2 separate regions of the Homo sapiens genome follow, and region 2 is linked to region 1. The links come from fine-mapping of genetic effects on gene expression. A gene starts in region 1. The other region holds a variant in brackets. All regions are shown on one strand. Distances are between the middles of the regions. Region 1 holds the start of ELFN2 (extracellular leucine rich repeat and fibronectin type III domain containing 2). Region 2 holds the start of LOC100506271 (a long non-coding RNA gene).

Evidence for each region. PIP is the estimated chance that this variant, and not a neighbour inherited with it, causes the effect.
Region 2: its variant is fine-mapped to the expression of ELFN2 in testis (GTEx, PIP above 0.99). The same link has a PIP of 0.9 or more in nucleus accumbens and prefrontal cortex.

Annotation. Positions count from the first base shown.
Region 1 is chr22:37,421,765-37,434,171 of GRCh38, forward strand. It overlaps ELFN2 (extracellular leucine rich repeat and fibronectin type III domain containing 2), which reads right to left and starts at 5,715. Exons shown (of 3, transcript NM_052906.5): 1 at 5,534-5,715.
Region 2 is chr22:37,353,850-37,366,256 of GRCh38, forward strand. LOC100506271 (a long non-coding RNA gene) reads right to left here and starts at 990. Exons shown (of 2, transcript NR_110515.1): 1 at 1-990. It also overlaps a transcript of ELFN2 not described here. RefSeq lists enhancers at 1,025-1,525, 1,526-2,026. The variant C/T (reference allele first, on the strand shown) is at 5,641.

The DNA of each region.
Region 1 (12,407 bases):
GAGGGCCTACCAGTCTCCGCCTGCACAGAGCTGACATGAAGTGGGAGAAATAAGACAGGCAATAGGCAGATGTAGGAAATCCACTGGGGAATGAGAAGGGCCAGGAAGGGAGTGAGGCAGGTCGGCTGACCCCACAGCCTCTGTCTCTCCAAGATTCAGGGGCAATTGTAGGGGGAGAAGGATAATAGATGGGCCAAGGAGGGAAACTGAGTCAGGCCTGAGTCTTGGGACTAGGCCCACGGCAGGCTGGTCAGGCAGCCTTGGGATTCATTCCCTACTTCCCCCTGAGAGAGGTGGTGACCAGTGTACACAAACAGTCACAAGAGCTGGCAGCACCCAGGCTCTTTTCATGCATCCTTAGGCGCCCCCAACCCCAGCAGTACCCATGCACTTCAGGCGGTGAAAAGCAGAGGGTGAAAAGGATGGGAAAGAAACAGACACATGCATGCACAGTGCAGACCCCTTCCAGGAAGCCAGGAATGAACGGAGGGGGCAGATGGGAAGGGGGAGGAAAATAATGGCATCTCGCATGCCAGACAGGATGTTATACACGTGGTCTTCTCTTACCTAACCTTTAGCATGACCTTTAAGACAACCCAGAAGGGTTAAGAATTCGTTTTTTTTGTTTTTTGGTTGTTTTATTGTTGCTGTTGTTGTTCTGGCCAGGCACAGTGGCTCACGCCTGCAATCCCAGCACTTTGGGAGGCTAAGGAGGGAGGATCACGAGGTCAGGAGTTCGAGACCAGCCTAACCAACATAGTGAAACCTCGTCTCTACTAAAAATACAAAAATTAGCCGGGTGTGGTGGTGTGTGCCTGTAATCCCAGCTACTGGGGAAGTTTTTTTTGAGACGGAGCCTCACTCTGTCACCCAGGCTGGAGTGCAGTAGCACAATCTCGGCTCACTGCAACCTGGGCCTCCTGGGTTCAAGCGATTCTCCTGCCTCAACCTCCTGAGTAGCTGGGATTACAGGCATGCACCACGATGCCCGAATAATTTTTTGTATTTTTAGTAGAGACAGGGTTTCACCATGTTGGCCAGGCTGGTCTCGAACTCCTGACCTCAGGTGATCCTTCTGCCTCGGCCTCCCAAAGTGCTAGGATTACAGGTGTGAGCCACCACGCCCAACCAAGAATTCGGTACTTTTGTCCCCACTTCATATTGAGGAAACTGGGCCTCGGGGGGGGGGGGGGAAGTGACTTGCCCAGGACCCACACCGAGGAGGAAAAGAGGTTGGATTTGGAGCCCTGCCCCTGCCCTTTCCACAAGCAAGATGGCCAGGTGGGGAGTCCAGGGGGCCACAGCTGAGGCCACGATAGACTCGGGACCTGAAGAAGATACTGATCCTGGGGCAACCTCCCCACTGTCACCCGGGGGAGCCCTCCAAGCGCTGCTGTTCGAGGCACTGTGGGAGGGCCAGGGAGCAAAGGGCTGCCTTTGGGGGTGTCCCATCTCTGTGGGGAATGGGATGGGGGGTTGAGATGCAGGCACCACCCACGAGGCCCCTCCTTTCCTGTCTCTCCTTGCAGCCAAAGCAAAGGGCGTCCGCCACCCCCAGCTTCCCTAGGGCAGGGTCACTGCACCCATTTACAGATAAGCAAAGCAAGGCCCAGAAAGGGCCTTCAGTGAGAGGGGTAGGCCAAGATGTAGAGGCCTCCAGGCCCATCTGGCAAAGGAGTTCAGCAGCCAATGGTGCTGATGTGAGAGTTTCCCTTCGAGGGTTCCAGTCCTGGTTCCATCGCTGTGTGGCCCTGGACTGGTCTGTAACCTCTCTGTTTCTTGTCTTCAAAATGAGGAATAATAATAGTGCCTGCTGCAGCTGGCTTTTGTGGGACTAAACGAATGCCGCCCATAAAGAGCTTCGAACCGGGCCTGGCTCTCAGTAGGGGCTCAATAATATTAGCTGATATCATTATTATTATTATCACTATAGTTATTACTATTTCAATCAGCAGCATCGTGCAGCCAGCACCCTTCCTCTGGCACCCCAGGCATAAGCAAGCCTGCCCAGGTGGCTCTTGAGTCCTCAGGGCTTCTCTGGGGCTTTCCTGGGGACTGTCGGCAGAGCTAGGGGGAAGGAGAGGGGGCTCAATTATTCCAACCCCCAGACACCATCTCCAGTAATAATGTCAATGCCTCTGCCCCAGGTGGTAATTGAGCCAAGAGAAGGTTAATTTAATCAGGGATTGGGCTGGGACGGCAGGAGGCAGAGGACTGGGTAAACCTTCTAGACGATTAACACAGCTCCTGAAGAGGTCTAACTTGCTAAGAAGCGTCAGGTTTCGAGGCAATCCTACTTCTCGGCCATCCACTCCACACAGCACATGTCACAACATGGGGCAGGTGGGGGCACCGAGAGAGGAGCTTGGCCCCCAGGCACTGTGGCCGGAGCAGGTGAGGGTAGCAGCAATGTGTGCCTCCCAGCCCTGCACACGGTTGTCACCCTTTCACACTCACACATCACACCCGCAAGGGAAGCTGCCACCACCCTCTTACAGAGACAGGAGAGGCTGACCTCTGTCACACACAGCCAGGATGCAGATGCGGCAGGGGTGTCACTGGAACCCAATTCTGCTGCCAAAAACAAGCATCCTACAAGACCTCAGGGGATATTGAGGAACAGGCATGGAGCCCCCAGTGACCGCCCTAGACACGCCCCACTGGAGAAGGCTTGCTGAGTGTGCCCGTTCCTATCACGCTGACTGTTTCTGGAGCTTGTGGGTGGAAGAGCAAGAGAGCACTGACCTGGGAGTCAAGAGCAGCCTCTCCTCCAGCCAGAGACTCTTGGCCTTGGGCTCATCACCTGGCACCCCACCACCAATTCCTCATAGCTCCATATCTCTCCAGGAAAGGAAGGTACCCCTCGAGAAGGGGCTGGGTAATCAAATGTGTCTCCCTGTAGCCACTGAGGGCGGCGGGGGGGGGGATGGAATTCACATTAAATCAACAGACAGCTTATTCCAGAACTCAGTTTACTCATCTGTCAAATATCCACATAATAGTGGCTAACTCACCCACCTCAAAGAACTGCCGTGGAAATCCAAGGAAAGAAAAGAAAGTCCTTTGCAAAGTTAGACTTAAACCAAAACAGGAAAGCAGCTACTCTGGGCTAGGGGGATAGGAGGTGAGAGGACAGAGCTCACGTGGACTGAGCCCCCACCATATGCCAGGCATCAGCACCCGCCCCCCACAAGGCCCATGGTCTCCTTAACCCCCTTCACCTCTCTAACCCCTCACCCCATGTTACAGAGGAGAGACTGAGGCTCAGAGAGGCGACGCGAATGCTTAAATCACAAAACACAGAAAGCAGCAAAATGGGATTCGAACCAATGGCCTCACGCTCCCTGGCTATGGCCATTTTCTATTGTCACATGCACTGACACACTCACTCATTAAAGCACATCCACCCAGGGGTGGTGGGCCTGGCTGGGATGAAGAGGAAAACAGGGACTGGGGAGGTCAGATAGGGGGCTGCAGCACATTGGAGGCCTCCAGGCCCACCTGGCAAAGGAGTTCAGCAGCCAATGGTGCTGATGTGAGAACCTCCTTCGGGGGTTCCAGTCCTGGAAGGTGCACTCTTCAGGGGGCAGGACTTAAGGAAAGGGGTCCCATGCCCACTCAGGATGCTGGGAAAGGCGGCCTCTTGGGAGGGACCACGCCACGCGTCCTAAGGCTCCATCCCTCTCCCCTTCCCACCCCTCATATACAAGAGACATAACCACACTCGGCCACACACACTCCCGTGACATCACATTTACACACTCTGGCTGGGGGGAGCAACCTCCGACAAAACTGTCCCAGTGACGTCACCTGCGGCCTGGAGCTTATGTCACACCTGAGGTTCTCACTGACCTCACATACATACTTTTTCCTGATGTCCCCACAATTAACACTCTTTCTTCCTGCCTAGGCGTTGATGGCCCAGAGGTACCCACCTCCCCACCCACACAGTTGCAGGGCCCCCGGCTCATCAGGACAGCACCTGCCTGTGCACCCCTCTCAGGGGACACACATGCCCACATGCTTTGCTGATGGCCCAGACGTGACACGTCCCACAGGTGTCCACGGGCCACGAGAACAGGGGTGTCAGCCATGCACATACACATACACACACACACACACACACACACACACTCCCAGTCCCATCTCATGATGCAACTTGCATATTAAAACGCCTCTCGGTAACCGCGCCGGGCAGTCCGCGCCCCACAGCTTCCACCACATTCCTCCAGGTGCTGCCAGCACCCCACTCCCTCCAGCTTTCTGACTCCGACAGCCTGGCCTGCTGATAGCGACAGCCGCAGCCCAGACACACACACACACTCCAGCCCAACACCTGCGTCTCAGCAAGGGACCAAGGCAGTGCCCTCCAGCCGCAGCTGCTGGGTGGGAGGAGTCCAGGGGGAAGGGGCACAGCACAGAGCCCTGAGCTGCAGAAAGTGCCGAGTACCACGTTCCTCCCCAGCTGAGTGCACGGTCAGCACCACTGTCCCCTTCTCGTCTCCCTCCTTGGGCACGCCTGACACACCATGGCCTGTGGCCTCTGTTTTGGACACAAGCTCCCCGAGTGTGCATGCACACGCGCGCGCGCGCACACACACACACACACATCAGCTCCCTTCCCTCCAAACATTCCGAGGAAATCCTGCCAGGCCACTGACAGTGTGCGTGTGTGCGCTTGTGTGTATACAGACAGAGAGCAGGGTCCACCCCATGTCCACACACACACGCACACACCACACACACACAGCACGCACAATCCTCTCCACATGCACACGGCGCCCCACCAGCCAACACACCCACCCCCTCCCCGTCCCCTGACAGCTGCTGGAGCCCACACACGCACGCACACACACACACTGGCACGCGCTCGCACACACACACAAACACACACACACACACACACCCGGCAGTGGCCCCGGCCCTGCCAGAGCTGCAGTGTCTGCGATTTATGCCGCCTCCCTGGGCTGCCTCCCTCCTTGTCCCTGGCCAGCGCCTCTGAAAGGGTCCCCACCCCCCAATTCTGGTCTTACCAACCCCACCGCCGTCAAGCCCCACCCTGGCCCCCCTTCCCCTAGAAGGCATCCACCCCGTCAACCCCTCTTACCAGCTAGAGGATGAATGCCTTGACCCGGCAGCACCCCGTGAAAGAGAGGGGTTAGGGCCCCCGATTCGAAAAGATGAGGGCAGAGAGGTGCAGTGTGGCACCGGCTGGCACACCGTCCACCATCGAGCCTCTGCACCACCCCCAGAAACGCTCACCTCACCGACCGTCCTCGGTGTCCTCCCACCGCCTCCGCCCACCGCCACCACCACCACCTCCCTCGCGCAGGGTGGTCCCCCGGGGGTCTCACGGGGATCCCCAGACCCAGGAGACACTGGGGGTGGCTCTCCCCGTCTCATCCCCCCTTCCGTGTCCCTCTCCAAGCCCCACCCCCACTGACGGAGGGGGTGCCCTCCGGCTCCAGCCCCGACTCCCACCGTCTCCCCGGTCGGTCGGTCGCGGCGCTCGGATCCAGAGGAATTCACTTACCCCAGCCCCAGCCGGGATCCGGGCCAAGCACCGCCTCCGGGAAGCGGCGGCCGCGGGGCCTGCGCGTGTGAGTGTGAGTGTGAATGTGAGTGTGAGCGCGGGTGTGGGTGCGGGGTGCGTGGCCGTGGGGTGGCCCGCGTGTGTCTGTGTGTGTGTCTGGGAGCGCGCGTGTGCGCGCAGACGCCGCCGCCCCCTCCTCCCCGCCGCCGCGCCTCTGCCCCTGCCTCGGCGGGGAGGGCGCCCGGGAGGGGCCAAGCGGCGCGCGTCAGGGACCGCGGCAGGCTGTGTCCGTCTGTCCGTCCCCGTCTGTCCGTCCGCCAGCCCGCCCGCTCCCGGTGCCCTCCGCAGGCCTTTCCGCAGCAAGCCCGCTCCCGCCCCCGAGCCGGCCGCACGCTCCACGGACACACGCGCGCTCGCAGACACACGCCCGCGGGGCTGGGGCCGCGCCTGGCGCCGCCGCTGCAGCTGCAGCGCCCGGGGAGGCGAAGGCGGCCCCACGGACCCGAGCCCCGGCCTGGCGGACCCCTGTCCCGGCCGCGGCCCCCTGCGCTGCTCACCCCGCGGGATCCGGGTCCGGGTCCGGGTCCGGCCTCCGCCAGCGCATTCAACAGCTGGGGGCAAACTTGCGGCGGGGCCGCCCGAAGTGCGCCTGGACTCGCCCTCCCCCTGGACTCCGCCTCCGCTGATGGGCCCCCTCTCCGCCTTGTACCTCCATGCCCTGCCGCCTGCGCCCTGCTGGTTGGTCCCGCGTTCAACCGCTGGCGACTGGGGAAGTGCGGCTGCTGCGTTCCCATTTTACAGGCCAGACAACTGAGGTTCGGAGAGGAGTGATTCCCCCAAGGTTACACAGGGAGCCTACAGACAGTATTAGACTTTACGCTCCCCTACCTTGTGCCAGGGCACTCACTGCCTTTCCCCACCCCTCCAGGAGTAGGTCCAAGGGATACTGGGCTCATCTGTAGCTAGAGAACCTTCATTAGCCTTCCAGAGGCCCAGTTCCCCGCCCCTTACGCCAAAGCCCCTGCCACCTGCTGCCACCTGCAAAGGGGTGGATGCTGGGAGGAGGAGGAGGAGGTGGAAGATGCAAGAAGCCTGGCACCCGGGGCCTATAACTTGGTGCTTGGGCATGCAAGCACCTCCTCCCGAGGCCCTGCGAGCTGCATGTCGGAGGCCTGCTGCCAGCAGGCCCTGTACTTCTCCATCACTTTTATAGGACCGCATGCACCAGCGCCTGTTCTCAGGTGTTGCACAGCAGATGAAGTCCAGGCTGCGGGAACTCCCCGTCGGGACATCTCATGCAGGTCTGGAATAAGGAGACTCCCCAGAAGAAGCCACTGCCTGAGCTGAATCTTGATGGATGAGTAGGAGTTGGCCAGCTAAAGAAGGAGGAGAAGGGTGTCCTGGACTCTGGGAACAGCATGTGCAAAGAGGCACAGAGGCATGAAACAGCTTTGTATGTGTGTACAGGGAACTCCACGGAGTTGGGTATTAGTAGAGCAGAAAGAACGTCTGTCCAGAAATTCCTCCCTCCTTTCAACTAAGAACAGGGAACGGCCCAGGATGGGGCTGGGAGGGCAGACAAGCACTGGGTCACAGGCCACTTGTTGTCCTGGGGTATGCAGAAGGACTATTGGGCGTTCCCCACCTGCACCCCAGGCTGCCTGGCACACTCCTACCCATCCTTCAAGGTCCCTCGCTGCAAACCCAAACAAGCCATGTGCTGTCTCTGCCCTCTAAACTGAGCCCTCCTACAGGGCAGGGGCGGTATCCAACACATGGTGTGTATCCCTGACAAGGCTGGGCAAGAAGCAGGGTCCCAGCTCCAAGACCTTGCTGGAAGAGCCCCTCAGGCGGAACATAACGGCCTCTGCGCCCTCTGGCGGATCCCTCGAGAAATTAGAGTGCTCCCCAAGCCAACAGCCCCCCTGTGGCTCTCAGGCCCAGACACTTTCTGAGATGGGCACTGGCAGATGCCACCTAATCCGCTCCTGCCCAAGAAACTGAGCAGTGATGACCCCAAAGAATACCAGGGAGTCAGTGGCAAAACAGCCTCTTGCTGCTCTGTTTCCGAGACATTCCCAGTCATCTTCCAGAGTGCAAGTCACAACCCTCTCTGAGCCTGTTTCCTCCTTTGTGAAAGAAATATAGCAAAAGCAGCCAGTACCCCCAGCACAGTGCCGGCCACTCCCTTCTCCCTGGAGACCTCCAGGTCTGGCTGGATTTGGTCAGAATTTGTTTGAAGCTCTAAAACGGTCTAAGAATCTCCCTTTGGAGACTTTGCCCTTACTGGGCAGATGTACATTGACAAGAGTTTCAGCTCTTAGCTGACTTTCTGCCACCATATAGAAGATAGAGTTGGCCTGGCCTGAGGGTCATAGTGGACCACACCATCTAGACACTCGACTGGGCTTTCTCTAGACCATAGTGGAAAGGATACATGTCTGCACTGTCAAAGACAGTAGCCACTAACTGCATGTGGCTATTGAGTGATTGGAATTGTGGCTAATGTGGCTGAGGAACTAAATTTTTAATTTTAATTGTTATTACTTTAAATTTAAATAGCCATAATGTGGCTTGTGGCTGCCATGTGAGATAGTGCAGCTCCAGACATATAGCAAGCTCCTTATTAAAATCAAGCCCAGGCAGACCTAATGCACACACACAAACACACAGACACACACACAGGGAACCCTGAGGACCTGGGAATGCGGGGAGCGGGGAGCTCAGGAGACTGCCTAGAATCCGTAGCTGAATGGTTAAGACCGAGACAAACGTAAGCAATAACATGTCCATTCCCACAGTCACTGCCCCAGACCAGGCTTGCCGTCACCTGGATACCTGCAACAAACTCCCTCACCACCCATCTGTTTAAACCCTCCAGTAGCTCCCCAGAGCCCATGCACAGAGGCAAATATGTTCTCTTTCTCATGACAAGTGATTGGCAGCAGCTGCCTAGAGGTGCTCACCCTTTGCAGAAAATGGCATGATCAATTGGTGATGTCTGCCTCAGGAATAAATACAGAGATGAATGGTAAGCCCTCTCTGCTACAGGATAAAATCCAAACACTATTTATTTATTTATTTTAGAGACAGTGCCTCTCTCTGTCACCCAGGCTGGAGTGCAGTGGTGCAATCTCCACTCACAGTGGTGCAACCTCCGCTCACTGCAACCTCCGCCTCCCAGGTTCAAACTATTGTCCTGCCTCAGCCTCCCAAGTAGCTGGGATTACAGGCACCCACCACCATGCCTGACTAATTTTTGTATTTTTAGTAGAGACGGGGTTTCCCCATTTTGGCCAGACTGGCCTCAAACTCCTGAGCTCAGGTGATCTTCCTGCTTCAGCCTCCCAAAGTGCTGGGATTACAGGCATGAGCCACCGCACCTGACCAAAACTCCAAACTCTTTAACTTGCCTAAATAAGGCCCGTTGCAGTTGGTCCTTATTTATTCCTCCAGCATCTTCAATATCATCCCACATATGTTCTGGGTCCCAGCAACACCAATATCTGCCCTTTCCAGACTCACTTTCTGCCACCATATAGAAGATGGAGTTGGATCTGTCACCCCATCATCTTCACACCTTTGTGCTTTTGATCCTGTTCCCTTGATGTGGGAGGACTTTCCTCCTCTCAGATCCCTTCCCTACCTGTCTACTTTCTACCTATCCTCAGGTACTGCTTGAAAGCCGCCTCCTCAGTGAAGCCTCCCCTGACCACTCCTAAACTGAGCTGGCTGAGCTACTTCCTTCTCCACCGGCTCCCAGAACACTCTGCAAGGCTTCAGTGACAGCACACATCACATCATGTCATTATTCATTCTCTATGTGTCCACCTCCCCCAGCTTATTCTTCACTTGGTCACCTCTATCAAGTAGCAACCATGTGTCAGGGGCTCGCTCAGGGCCAGGCACTGTGCAAGGCCATTTTCACACATTATTCTTATTAATAAGCCACCAATCTAGACGTTAGGAGGTTCTCTTCCGGGCACACAGCATCCACCCCCCCTTCCCACCAGCGCCCTAATTTCTCCTCTCCCCACCACCATGGACAGTCTTGGAGGAATGTGAATCCAGGTACCACTTCCTGCCCTCAGCTGGGCTAATTGCGCTGTGGGTGGAGTGACGCGTGCACAGGAAAATTAACCGGAGCAGAACCATCCTCGAAATGTCAGTGCCAGGTGACATGGGTGGGCTGGGCACCTGCCCTGCATCCCAGAACCCCATCTGCTCGGCCTTCTCCCAGAGGTGCACAGGAGCTGCCCCTGGCTGACAGCTCACCAGAAAGTGCCCTTTATTTTCAAGGTGAACAAGCATGGCCCACATCCAAATGATCCCACTGCCCTGGCCACGTCACTAGAAAGACATTTTTTCCAGAAAGTCGTCCTTTCTTCAAAGCTTAGAGAACAGAGGAGGAAGAGTGAGAGGAACATAGAAATGCTAAAAGCTTCACGCATTGTTTAAGGTGAATAACAAGATTTACCCTTTGTACTTAGGTGAAATTTTCTTCACTTGGTCTCAGTGGCATTTTGAGTTGATGCTAAGAAAATTAGGTTAAAGTGATTCTTTCAGAGAAACACACACACACACACACACACACACACACACCCCAGAGCTTGTGCGGGGTGTCACATTCCTCCTTTGGATCCAGACCTAAAATCACATTTCTGTTGCGCCTCCAGTACTGGAACTGAGGACATCAGCTCGCTGAGGACAGGAGCCAGTGGTGAGACAGAGCCTGGAAGAAAAAGACGGGCCTGGAAGGCAAAGCGTGGTCCTTGCCCACGGTGGAACCCTGCCAAGTGGACTAGGAAGAGATGGGGGCTGAGCTGCCTTCTGGGGAAGGTGGGTCCTCTTATCTAGGAGTGTTTTGTTTTTCTGGTCACTGTGACAGGTCAGGGCATGCAAGGATGAAGGTAGTTGTCAGATGCTGGGGCCTGGGGGAGAATGAGTAGGAGAGAGAAGAGACCACAAGTCGGGAGGAAGGTGACAGGGAGGGAAGCCGACCCGCCCAGGAGGCCTAGTTGCGAAGAACACATGTATTTCTAGGAAGGATTTTGACATTCTTTTGCTGTGGTGTGTACATTACGAGCCCCCTCCCCCACTTCAGTCTCCCTACCACCTCCTTCCCCCCACTCCCTTCAGAAAAGTCTGCGTGTTTCTCCTATGAGTCATTTATTGCTTTGTAATGAATTACCTCAAAACTCAGTGGCTTAAATCTGCAAAATGACATGCTTATTATTTCACAGTTTCTGTGGTCAGGCATTTGGGAGAGGGTGATTCAGCCTTGAAATGTCTCATAAACTTGCAGTCAAGATGTTTAGCTGGGGCTCCACCCATCTGAAGGTTGGACTGGGGCTGGCGGATCTGCTTCTGAGATGCTTCCCTCACGTGGCTGGCAGGGTGGTGTTGGCTGTTGGTGGGAGTCCTCTGTGTCTTGTCACATGGACCTCTCCATAGGACTGTTTGAGTGTCCTCACAACATTGCGGCTGCTTTCTCCAGAGTGAGAACAAGTAGGAAGCCTGTGTCTCTTAAGACCTGTCCTCAGAAGTAACACTCATTTTTGCTTTCCCGTTGGTTCCATGGATCTGACCCATTCATTGTAGTGAGGGGACCACACAGGGGGTGGAGCCCAGGAGGGAGGTACCATCAGGAGCCCTCTTGGGGGCCAGTGGTTTTGAGATCAATCAATTATATTTGGGGAAGTTGAGGAAGTTCTGTGTTCTGCATCCAGACTATCAAAGACGAAAACAGAACTAGAGGAGTGGCAGCCAACACAGGATGGCCTGATTCCTTAGGAGTCCATGATTCTGAGAGCCTATGGTCTTCATTGTTTATAGACCAAGGGCAGCTCAAGGCTAATGATGCATAAAGAATGTGCATAAAGACCCTAGGGCTGGACAAGAGTCAAAGGTGGCCGAAGGTGTGGCCCCAGTGAGGGGGTGCCTGTGAGGACCAAAGGCCAGGGCCACACTCTGGGGGATATTTTGAAGTGTCCACGTGGATGCCTGTAGGTCCAGAGACCCAGCTATGGGAGGGACCCCAGAGAACCCTATTAGAGGTGCTGATGGCACCCTGCTTGCCTGGCTGGGGCTGAGATGACTGGATGGTGAGGTTTGCCAGGCTGCCTCCCCGCCAGTCTTGGTAGAGCAGCCCTGGAGTGTGCTGTCAGATAGGGAGGGGACAGGAGGACAATGGGGGACACCCCTTTTGACACACCGGCTGCCTCCACTAGAAGGTGAGCCATTTTCAGCCAATTCAACCATCTAATCCAGATCTGTGCCATGGGTGCCCAGCCCCTTGCCAGTCACAAGCAGGTGCTTGGGGAGGGTCCTGGTGAGCTGCCCCACCCAATGGTGCAAGGGCCAGACCGAGAGTGTCCATCCCCCTCCCCCCAACCCCGAGGCCTGCTCCAACAGAAGCGGGATCTGCCGAGTGTTTACAGCCCCATGGCAGATGGCCTCCTCTCAGCTCTCTGAACCAGGAGACTCCTCTGAGACACCCCCAGGGAGAGCTGGAGGAGGAGGAAGGAAGGCTCAGATCTCTGCATCTGCCTGACTTATTCTGTCCCCTAGCCAGAGGCCACTGCACCCCGCACTATTGTGTGGCTGCCATTTGGATCTGAGCACCCTTGCAGGGAGCTCTGGAATTCTGCGGGAGCCACAGCAGGGGGAGCGGAGTTAGCCTCAGCTGGCTCAGCGGCTACGAGGTCAGCCCGGCAGCCTGCATTATTAAACCATCTATCTGGCTCCCTCCAGGGAGATGCTGGGGGTGGGGGCAGGCTGCTGCCTGGGTCCGGAACTGGGGCAGCCGGCAGCTCCTGGGAGCTGGAGGTCACCGGCCTCATGGCTGGGCTTGTCACTGCTGACCTGCTGCCGG
Region 2 (12,407 bases), 68 kb before region 1:
GAATGGTATCTAGGAAAGAGGAACACACATTTGCCCTATGACTGAGCGATTCATTCCTAGGTTTACACTCAACAGGAGTGAGTACATATGCCCAAGAAAAGACGTGTGAAAGAATGCTCATACCAGCTTTCTTCATCATCTTGCCAAACGGGAAACGACCCAAATGTCCATCAACGGTTGAATGCATAAATCCATTGTGGTGTATTTCACAGCAATGAAAATGATCCAACCGCTGCTCCGATCCACATGAATGAATCATGACACGTTGCTGAGGGAAAGACGCCAGTCTCAAGCGAGGACGTCGGGCAGAATTCGGTTCATGTGGAGCCCAAAGCAGGTTGGAAGTCAGGACAGCAGTTCCCCTCGCAGCCCTCGAGGGAGAGGCTGGCAGGACTGCAAAGGGCCTCATGGAGCAGTGGCCATGTTCTTCATCTTCATCAGGAGGCCATGCCATGGGTGTGTTCACTTTGTGAAATATCTATTGTTTTGATAGGCATGCTTTCTGTGTGTGTGTGTATACACGTATATATTCACTTCAGTTATAATTAACTTCACAAATAATAAAACACTGCAGAAGGTATTTAGAGTAAAAGGAATGACCACTCCCTACCCCACATGACTTAGGTATGTGACCTTCCATACCTTTTTCTATGCGATTCTATGGCTTAGTTGGGTGTGTAAAAAGAAAAAAAGAAACACACACACACACAACCCCATCCGCAGTAACAACCCCAGACATTGCCAAATGTCCCCTGGGGGTAGGGTTGCCAGAGTAAATACAGGACGTACAAATGAGATCCTACCATATCTTATGGGGTTCTTATGGGGTTTTTGCTATCTTTCATTTAATACAGGGGTTCTCACCCTTGTTACAACTGACATTTTAGGCTGGATAATTTTTTTTTTTTTTTTTGGCCTCAGCTGTCCTATGCATTGTGAAATGTTTAAAAGCACCCCCGGTGCCTTCCCACCAGATGCTGGTAGCACCTAACCATCCCCAGTGACAACCAAAACTGCCTCCAGACATTGCCAAATGTCCCCTGGGGGTAAGGTTGCCACAGTAAATACAGGACATCTAGTTAACATGCACGGTCTGAAATTCAGCTTGAACTGGCTGCCCTGCATTTTTATTTCCTTAACCTGGCAACCTACCTAGGGAGCAAAATTACCCCTGGTTGAGAACAGATGACATCTCTCGTCGCTGGTTCCTTTTCAGGACGGGAGGATACCCCCTCTTTCTTTTCGGCGCTCTGCTGTGTTCCATGATGGGGACAAGCCATAGCCTGTCAGTCTGTCCCTTGGGATGGACCAGGTGCTTGCTAGCCAGTGGGAGGTTTTCTGCCGCAAGTGACAGAAATCCCTGCTCAGTCTCACGTGGGCCACAAGCCCATCCACAGTGCTGCCTGGCAGGGAGCAGGGTGAGCACTGGCCGTTTGCCTGTTCTGCTCTTCCCCACCTCGAGTCAGCCTCATAGGTCGGCCTCAGCATCCAGGCTGGCCGGGCCCGAGGCCACCTGCGGGCCCTCCCTGATGTCTCATTGGCTGAGACTGGTCACAGCCCACACCTGACCTGTCACTGGCAGAGGGTGCGCTCGCCCTGAGACCCATCAGGAGCACCTGCCGTGGTGGCGAGGTGGAGGTGGTGCTGGCGTCCTAGGCTTCCTCTCATTGTCAAGTCCCTTCTCAGACCTCACCTCTGCAGCGGGGCCATCCCTGAGCACCCATCGATTGTGGCCTTGTCTCCCCACCCAAAGGGCTCCCTTCCCAAGTGTTGCCAGGAGCCCCAGCAGACATCTTCTACACTCAAGTATCAGCTCCTGGAGGGCCCAACTCCTGGTGACTGCTGTGGTCTCAGGCCTTCTGAGTGCAGTCCGTGGCCGGGGGAGCCTCTCCACTCACACCGAGTGAACTCAGCAAGAGAGGTTGCCTTTGTGCTCCGCAGAGTGCAGTCCAGTCCCATATCCACAGCCATGAAACCCAAATGCTCCCAGAACCATACGTCTTTTCTTCTACCTATTTGCCAGCAAACCTGACCCAAATTGACGTGAGAGTGTTCAGCGTCTTTTGTTTCTCCCACTTGCTGTGATATGTGTGCAGCTTGCTGAAGAAATAATGTGTTTCATCAGGGGGTTGTCTTGGGCTGAGTTCCCCAAAAGCAAAGCCTGAGACAGGACTTGAGTGCAGGTGTTTTTTTGGAAGGTGACACCAGAATCCAGGAGGGAGCAACCGGGGAGAGTGAGACGGGGGTTGGGAGAAGATAATACAAGGGTCGTTACGGAGGTCACTGCAGAGGGCACTGCAGGAGGGGGCGGTCAACTTCTCTAGGACCTCCTGAGCAATGTGGGGTGCTTCTCTGAAGGACTAGAGGCTGCTGGGCGCTTACCCACCTGCCCCTGGGCTCTACCAGCTGAGGGTTACCCGAAGGGCCTTCACTCCCCAGAATTCCCCAGTTGCACTTGAGGTGGGCTGAACACCCCAGAGGGTCTACAGCATGGGGCAGCCCCAGACCCCGGGGAAGAGTAACACAGGATGGGGCATATGCGCCAAGTTACCTTCCGAAAATCTGAAACATGTTTGACCCCAAGGGATTCAGGGTCCTAGAGGTGGAATTTCAGGGTTAGAGGGGGCACCTTGGGGGGAGTCTTGTATGTAGTTTGAAAGTTTTGAAACATCAAGAGCCCTCTGAAATGGCTGTCTACGTTTCACACTCCTGGCCAGGCGTGAACGTCTTTCCTCTACACCTGCGCACCCACCTCAGGTACGTCAGCTAAATAGTAATAGTCACGGCAGACACTTATGTGTGCTCTGCATGGGGCACTGTTCTAAACACTGATCCCTCACAATGACTCTGTGGGGTAGTACTGGGTTTGACACTCATTTTTTAGGTGAGGAAACTGAGGCACAGAGGATTACACACTTTGTCCACGTTCCCACAGCTGGTAAGTCCAGAGCAGGAGGGATGTGAACCACAGCACTACACTGTCTCTAACAATATCATCGTCTTTTTAGGTTTCTGCCAATCTCATGAGTGAAAAGTGATCAGGAGTTTGGAAAGTTCATTGTCTTGTTTTGTATTTCTCTGTTGTTATCAGCGAGGAATAGGCAGAGGAACAAATAACAGAGACTCCAGCCAGACATTTATTGCTTAAGTAAAATCAGGAGGACGGCAGTCTAGAGCTGGCATGTCAGCTCTACTCCATGGTTTTGGTCACGCAGACCCCTCCTCTTGTTACTTTGCTATGTGGGATCTCTGTCCCCAAGGTCTCCTCACTGCCCCATAAGGGCTGCTGGAGCCCCAACCATTATGTCTCGTATTCCAGCCACAAGAAAAAGATAAAGAAAAAGGAAATAAGGAACACCTGTCAGCTGCCTTTTTAGGACGGTTCCTGGAATCTGCTACTTCTCATTGACCAGAACTTGAGTACGGGGCCTCACGCTAGACGGGAGGTTGGGGAATGTCTTAATAATAGACCACATGCCTGGCTGAAAATGAAGGGTTTTGCTCCTGTGGAAGAAGGGAAGGTGGATACTGGAGAACAGCTTGTGATCTCTGCCACAACAGAGGAGTATCTTTGCATAGGTTTCTTCGCCATTTTTATGGCTTCATCTAAGAATTCTCTTTTCCTACTCTCCTTTTCCTCTCACACTGATCATCCTTTTCTTACTGATTTTTAGCCACACTTCTTATGGGGAACTCACTACACTTCCCAAAACCATCTGTAGCAGTGCTTGGCTCTAAGAATTTGTGTCAAAATCAAATGGGAGCCACAGGGATGGGCCCAGCTCAACACGTGGCTCACGTTAAATGCCTCACAAATGTTGGCTTCCTTCCCTTGAGTCAGGCATTGCAAAAATGTTGCGGTGCCCTAGAACCCCCTAGAGTGCTAACAACTTGGAGCCCAGGCTTATTGAAAGACAGGGCCTGGGCCCTTCTGTTTTTACCAACTTCCCTGGGTGAGAATGATACCCACTGAAGTCTGAATTTGCCCTCAATTGTTGACAAACTCTGTACTGTCATCGACTTCCTCTTGGTCAGCAGCACGAGCGTGGCCACCCCCTCCACACATCACCCTGCACGCATCTGAAGCCGAAGTGAAGTCCCACAGCCAACCTTCTCTTTGCCAGGAGAAAAAGCCCCATTTTCTCACTCATCCCTTGCGTGGCAGGGATTCCCAACCCTTCTAATTGCTATCATTCTCAGCAGGTGGACCTGGCGGGTCAACCTCCCTCCTGGCATATTCACCCTGGACTGACCATAGCCTCTCCAGGTGGAGTCTGGCCAGTACGGGAGAGCACAGAACCCTCACCTCCCCCAGGCCAGACCCCGTGATCCTATTCACATGGCCCACGGCTGCATCGGCCCTAGAAACAGCTTTGTCACTCCGTGAACCTACAGTAAGTTCAAATCCCCCCCAGTCTCCAGGAAGTAGGAGTTCCGTGTTGATGGTTACATCTGCACATGCTACAAGTGGCACAAAACCTTTACTCAAGTGAGTTCAAGCAAGAGACATCAGTTCACATGAGAAGGCAGAGGCACGCAGGTCCAGGTCCGCCGGGGCGAGCCTCGGTCCACCGTTTCTTCGAATACAGGATTTGTTCTCTTTCCACTTGGACATCTCAATGTTTCACAGAGAGGGCCCTAGTGTTTCCTAAACTGCAGAGTTTCAGGCATCTGCATCCCGATTAGATACAACCGATTCTAAAGGAGGATCATTCTTCTCGTCCCATTTCCTCTTCCTGGTTGGAACTGGGTCCCGTGGCCATTCCTAAGCCAATCACTGGCAGGGGGAGTGGGACTACCATTTCTGGCAGGTGCCAAGGTCCAGAGGCATGAGTCGGTGATGGGCCTTCTCAGCATGGCTGGAAGAGCCTGTGAGATTATCTAACAGATGAGGGGCACAGCCAGATGTGGGCCCACTGGCTGCTATCATCCCCCAAGTGAAGGGTGGTGTGGCTTGCACCCCAAGGGGAATGGGTACATGGAGAGGAGCAGCCAGATTGAGATGAGTTGTCAAGATCAAGTCAGTATGAGATGAGGGGAAGGTGGAGACTAGCTCCAAAAAAACGGCCCATCATGTTGGCTTGAGTGGCAGGGGACTGCCACTTACATAGGAAGCAGGAGGACTGGGGGCCGCTGGGCTATCTGAGATGGACGTGGGGCTGGAAGTCACCAACATATATCCATATGTTGGTATTGGAAGCCCTGGGGCTTGGGGGAGTGCACTAAGTAGGGAATCAGTGAGTCGACACTTTAGCACCTCCGTGACTGTCTCCAGCTGTGGCAGGAATCCAAGAGAGAGATGGAGACCTGGATTAAGGCCACCCGGCAGGGAATTGAAAATATAATTTGTAAAACGCAATCATCTGGTCCAAATGAGGAAGGGAAGGAGAGTAACCAAGTTTGGATCTCAGAAAGACTCAGATGGTGTGAGGTCGCTGTCACTGACCCTCAGCACAAGGGGCTCGGCTTTGCCCTCACTGGCCTGGTCCTTCTTGGGAGCCTTCCCCTGGCCTCCCTGGCCAGGCCCCTGCCACTCCCCTCTTCCTTTACCCCACTCGGAGGTTCTCCTGGCTCTCTCCTTCCTGGCTCTCGGCCCTCTATGGGGTCTATTTCTTTTGACCAAAGCATCTGCTTCCATTG[C/T]TGTATCTGCAACACTGTCGCAGCCTCCTTCATTCAGCCAACATTCTCGAGCGGCCCCTACCTGGGCCAGGCCACGGTATGAACGCTCCTCAGCTCTCAAGGCTTCCGTGCCTCGATACAGCTACGTGAAGCAGGAGTAGCTCAATCCATTTCACAGAGGTGGAAATTGAGGCTCTGGAGTTCGGAGGAGCACTCCAAGGCCCAGTACTGCCTGACCACCATGGGGCAGGGCAGACGAGCCCCAGACTTGGAGCCTACCCTAAGAAGTTTCTCGGCTTTGCTCAGGAAAGAATTCAAGTGTGAGCTGGTGGTGGAAGAAACAGCTTTACAGAGGTGATAGTGTTACAGCTCTGTGATTGCCCCTGCAGAGCAGGGCTACCCCACGGGCAGTGTGCTGACAGCAGCAGCTCAGGAGGAGTTCTGCAGTCATGTTTATACCCACTTTTCATCACATGCAAATTAAGGGGCAGGTTATTTAGAAATTTCTAGAAAAGGAGCTGTAACTTCCAGGTCATTGCCATGGAAAGGGGCAGTAACTTCCGGGTATTGCTATAGACAAAGGTAAAACTCATGGTGCTGGTGGTGGGCATGACTTCTGGAGAGAGGTGCTTTCAGGGCCTCTTCCTGTTTTAGCCACTCTTCAATCTGGTCTAGAGTTGAGTCTCCGTCTCCCACCTCAACCACACTCCCTGGTGGTCAGTCCAGCCCTAAGTTCATAGTCTGGCCTGGGGTGTCTCATCATGCATTTATGGGTGTAGAGGCAGCCAGGCCTGGGATGGGGACATGAGCTCCTGGAGTCAGGGAGAGTGGGCAGCCAGCCCTTGCCTGCGTTAATCAGCATTTGTTGGGCCTCAGTTCCCTGGTCCATACACGGAGGGTAAAAGTAAGTACCTTTTCCTCATTGGAGTACAACAGAACTCAAACGGCCTCATGCCTACCTCATGGCTCTCTTGTGAGGTGGCACTGGAAGCTCTGTGTGTGAGCACAGTGCGGACACACAGTGGGTGACTCGTCCCTCAGTGAAGTCCTCCAGTTAAGAGCCGTGGACCACGTACCTCTGTACACCCCACGCCACCCCTGCTTAGCAACCTCCATCCGGCTGGCACAGGGACAGCTCAGGGTGAGACTGAGGGGAGTCGATGATCAGCTGTCAACAGGGAGTCAGTGGGGAGACTTCCACTCTCAGGTCCTAAAGTCAGAAAGCTCCTTAGACCGAAAGCAGCTGGGAAAGCAGGGGCCAAAGACAGGAAATGGGAGCTGCAGAAACTGAAATATCAGACACAAAACAGGAGGCAAGAGCAGCTCTGGCCATGAGGCAACAAAGCAGAACAAAGAAGAGGCTCGTACAAGGCAGAACAAAAATGGAGATGAAGAACCAAGATGGCCCAGAAGCCTCACTGCAGTGGGCAGAGTGAAGCGCGGCGCTCCCCTCTAGTGCTATGTGATGGGTGGACTGTGCCCTCTGGAATGGGGTTTACAGCAGGGACTGAGCCACTCGAGGCTCCACTGTCTCCTAGGGTTACTTCCCGCCTTTAACCCTCACCTGAACCATGTCAAAGGACCGTTATAAACAGCTAAGGGACAGCCACATCCCGGCAGCTCCCCAGAGACAGAGGTGCTGTCTCCTTTAGGCTTTCCCACCACAGGTGCCAGCCAGGGCTGGTGCCTCACATGGCATGTAGAAGAAGACTTGTGAGTTGACCCTCAGAGCAAGAAACTAGGAAAAGCAATGGGGCCATGAGATGCTGCTGAGCAGCAGTAAAGAGAAAAATATGCTTTTTACTTAGCTGGAAAGGGCAAAAGGAAGACACTCCAAATGTAAAGTGACTTTCTGAGCCCCCCTCCTCCCTACCCCCTTATCCTGCCCTCCATGAGTTGCCAGTTCCATCCCACCTTCCTCCCACCCCCAGGAGAAGTTCCTGCCAGCCCCACTCAACTCCTGGGCCCAAGTGACGCCATCTCCCCTTCCACCTCCCCAGTCCCCGCAGGGTCGTTCCCTCCTCTGTGAGCAGCCTTCCAAGCCCACCCTGCTCCTGCCCAGACACAAAACAGCAAAACCACTTCCTCTCCCTTTTCCTCCATGTATAGCCTTTTCCTCCAAACAGTGGGCCCATCCCACACCATCTGACTTCTACCCCCAGGCCCCATTAACTCAGAGCCCAGGCCTATCCCTAGTATTTCCTAGGCCTGGGCGTGAGTACAAAGGGAAGCCCAAATCCTGTGTGTCTAAATACTGAAAAGTTCTCCATTCAGCTAACAAACTGTTAGAATATCCTCCTGCCTTGACAAATGTACCTTCACGATGACCTCTAACAGGTTTGAATTTCAAATTCCTGGCCTCCCTAAATGTGGTGGCCTATGGAAAGTCAAGCCCCATTCTCCGGCCCATAGGACACCCTCTTCTCGCCCACAGCACTATCTCACAACTTAAAGGGTCTCACAGGCATGCATAGAGACTGCCACCCCACGCATTCAAGCCCTGCCTACACCTCCCACACGCAGCTACTCCTTGGTCATCTCTCATGCCTAGGAGTGCCCACATGGGTGGCACGGTCCACCCTGGGAAGGACAGGCCTTGGAAACATGTCCGGGGCCAACTGGACAGTCAATCCTGGCATCCCAGGTGCTTGGAGCATGGTCAAGTGGAAAGTGTCTGGGAATGCCCGTGGGCCCTGCAGACTCATCAGCCCGTGGGGAAGAGCAGGGGGCTAGGAGAGGGTCAGAGCAGACCCTTCTCACATATATGCCCTGTGGCAGGGACCCCCTTAATCCTGGTGCCACCTGCCTCCTCCTCCCCCCGTCTCTGGGTTATAATCTAAATAACTGCCAGACGTAACCTCTTCTTCCCTGATCATGCTTCCTATGACCACAGGAAGGCTCTCCCCGTTTCCAACCCTTATTTTGGGGGGCTCATTCTTCCCATCTTTAAAGGAAAGATTTGGAGCAGACATCTCAGCAGGAACCAGAATTTTAGCAACAAGACACGAGATGCAGGGGTTGACAGGGCCGGCACAGGCCCCAGGATTATTGTACAGGTGGCATCTCTCGACACTCCACTGGCCTAAGGTTGGGACGTTGGGCCATGCCCGATCTGGGACTCGGGTCTTTGGGCCCTGACCTCCAGGGGAACAGGCAAAGTTTGGGAGTAAAGTGGGTTAGAGCTCCTTCCAGCTCTTCTGGGTATGCTGTGCTTGCTTGGGCCAATTACTGTCTCTGAGTCTTTCCCCCAAAGTGTAGAGCAGGGGTAAAGCCCCTACTTCATGGAGCTGCCGAGGAAATAAACACACCCTGGTCCACACACCAGATGTGAGGCATCAGCCCAACCCTGCCAAACCCTCTTAAAGCTGCAGGACAGATGTTTGGGCTCTACAGATCAGATGCTCTTCTGAGAGCCTTGGAAGGAAGCAGTGAGGCAGAGAGATGCTTCTACCGCCATCGTCCCTGCCCTAGAATGAGAGTCCACAGCCCATTGCCAGCACCCAAGGGGTACCCCTGCAGCTGCTGTGATCCTGGCAACAGCAGCCCAGGGCCCCCCGAGGTACCGATTCATTCCCTCAGCAGCCCCATGAAGCAGAAACAGGTGGCAGCTCCCTTGGTGGGTCAGTCCTGCGTAGTTATTTTAAAAGTCAGTTTGAAAAGGCTACCCCTGAGTCTGGTCTGCAGCCCTCCTGACAATTCCATCCACCACTTGGTTTCCTCTTGTGAATTTTTTTTTCCTGCTTAAATTAGTTACAGAGAATTCTGTTCTCTGCAATAGAAACCGGACTGAAGTCTATAAATTCACAGCCATGGTGCTTAACATATGGGGATTGAGCCATACAATTTGTTTGAAAAGTAAGTGAGAAGAGAGAGGGGCAGATGAGTGAGTTTTCTCCCCCTAGACCATTGCAGATTCTGGGAGTTATCTAAATCAGGGGAGGCGAGAGTTGCTGGAGGAGTTTCACCCCCCTGGGAACTCCTTCACACGTGACCTTGCTTAGTTTGGCAAGGACGGGGAGGACGGAAGATGCGCGGTCTGAGATGCAGGTGAGGGCAGTTTTAGAGGAGGCCAACAGAGAGAGGGGGATTTGGGGTGGGGACTGGGTAAGAATGGGTGTCGTGGGCTTGGCGCTGACAGCAGGCTGGGGCCCTAGGCCTAGGGAAGGAGAAGGGGCTGCCAGCATATGCCGGAGAGGCAGCCCGGGCCTCAACTGGAGGTTGGGCCCTAGGAGTCTAGCCGTGAAACCCTCCAGGCAGGAGTGGTGGGGAAAGCAGAAAAGCCCTAGCTTCCTGACATGTCCCCACATGCCTGAGGGAGGGGGCAATGGCTGAGCTCCCAGAACGGCAGGGCCGAGAGCAGCCTGGACAACAAGGAGCAGAGGGTGACCCACAGGTGCAGGGTTGGGAAGACAGTGACAGCGGGAGGCCAGAACCGTCACCTCCAATGCACACCTAGCATCAGGTCTCCTTCCTTGCAGACAAAGGGCCTTGGGAAGGAGGCTCATGGGGCCAACCAGTTCCCCATGTGGGAGTCCTCAGATGCAGAGACCAGGAAGCTGCAGATGGGACCTGCAATCCAGGGGAATTGGGGTAAAGTGAGACCAAGAGCAGAACTCAGAATTGGATTCCCCAGCCCCACAGTCTGGGAAGAATATGAAGAAAACACCTGAGCCAGCAGGGATCACCTAAGCCTCCCTTGGCCAAGGACTAGACAGTAAAGGCTTTCCTGGAAAAAGGGGCTTGCAGACCCTAACCTCACAACACCAATAGGATGGAAGCCTCGGGGAGGCCAGGGTGGTGGCGGCAGCAAGGGAGGATTGCCTGGGATTCAGGGCCAGGCACAGGGCCACGGGGCAGCCTCAGGGATGAGGGGCTCCGGAAGAAGCACAAGGGCTGCCAGGAAAGAGCCGGGGGTGCAGAGCAAGAGAGAGACTGGCCTGGCCACAGCCCCACTGGGACAGCTGCACTGGGCCTGTGTGAGGGCACTCAGAGGGGACAGGGGCCAGCTGGGGCCCAGGCAGGAAAACAGTGAGGGGCCAAGCCCTGGGTCATCCCAGAGGGTCCCCACAGTTCAGCCAACTCCCATGGAGGCAGGAAGGGAGCAGGAAACCCCATGGGCCACCAGAGCCAGCAGGACACAGCTCCTGTAGACACAGGCCAGGGATGAGTGCCACGCTGTGACACCAGTCACAGGGAATAGCTTAGGACAAGGGAGTTCATTTAAAGCAAGCCATAACAATCCAGGCCAAATCCAGGGGCCTTCCTGGAAGAGGGGTTGGTAGCAGTTGGAGAACAGGAGTCTGAGAAAAGGGCAGGTGGGCTCTGCCTCTGGGAAGCAAGGAGGCTGGGGCTGGGCGGTGGGCCCCAGGCTGCCCCCGAACAAAGGCTTGGGCAGTTCAGCCTGAGGTCACTGGATGCTGACCTGAGTGCCTCAGCCTGACCAGAGAGACAAGGTACCTCCTAAATCTGAGAAGGAGCAGGAATGCTTCCGGGCTGTGACAAAAATGAACAGCAGATGGTGGGAGGGCACCAGAGGAGCAGGTGGGGCAGGGGTCCAGGACAGGCTGCCCAGGCTGAGCCCAGAGGAGAGAACCAGTGGGTCCCACAGTGACCCTGGACCCACCAATGACAGGAGCAGGAGGAGGCCAGCCTCTGAGACACTGGGCCTGGGGCTGAGTGCCTGGAACCCTGCCTTCAGAGACTAAATAAAGGAGACCCTGAGAACCAGTGAGATCCAGTGATCCCCCAAACCCTGCAGCCACAAGGGCTCATTTTAGGCTCACCTCTGGAAAACATTTATAGTTGTTGAGGCAGGGGGAGCTTGAGGGAGGGGAATATTCAGCTAAACAACTAAACAGAAAAGGAAGTTCCTGGCCCAGTAGCTACAAGGGTCACCAGAGTCACCTTGGAACTGTCAACTCCTTCAAACCAAGCCCCAGCAGAGACCAGGGAACTGTGCTGAGGACACCTAGCTTCCCTGGAGCCCTGCTGCGGGGAAGAACATCAAAGAAGCTAGAGAAGGAAGCCTGCCCGGGCTGGAGAGGGCCGGTGGTCGGTGAAGTTTGAGTTACAGATATCTTGGAAAAAAAGAAGGAAGGAAAAGGAGGAAGAACTTATATACCAGCAGTTTAGCCCTTGGGCGAGGCTTGAGAAGTGCACCCCACTTAGAGGGCATGACACAGAACGTGCCAAAGTGGGGTGCCCCTGGCAACTATGGTCCTGTTTGCAGCACCCAGGTCCTTGTCCCACCTGAAATATCCAGTTCCTGGGGCCCAGCCAGCAGAGAAGCCTGAACCCAACATTATCCACGAGGTACAGCCACACTTAGAGACATTCGTCCAACAGATGGAGGAACACCCCTTCACCCCAGAAAAAATAACACGTTTATGCCATGAAAGTTCACCTTTTTGTCATCTATATTTTGTGTCACGATATCTGAGCACGTGTAGCGTTTCAGGTATTTGCGAATGTCCTTGAGCACTTACGAATAAACTGATTATTTGCAAGTAAGGCATTAATTCAGAATTGGGGTTTTCTTTTAAGTAATGGCTCACATGTTAAGATGCAAGCACCGGTGAAAATGTGTGGGCTCACGGCGTTTGCTCGGTTTTCAAATAATTGAAGTGTGCAGAAAGGGAAGCAGATACGCGACACTTATGAAGCGGGGAGTAGCTAAGGACATTTCCCTAATTGCATTTGTAAACAGGACCAAAATTAGCCCAAAGCCCCAAAACATGCATGTTAAATGTGCTCTGTTTAGAAACAGAATCACTTCTGAGTTGAAATGA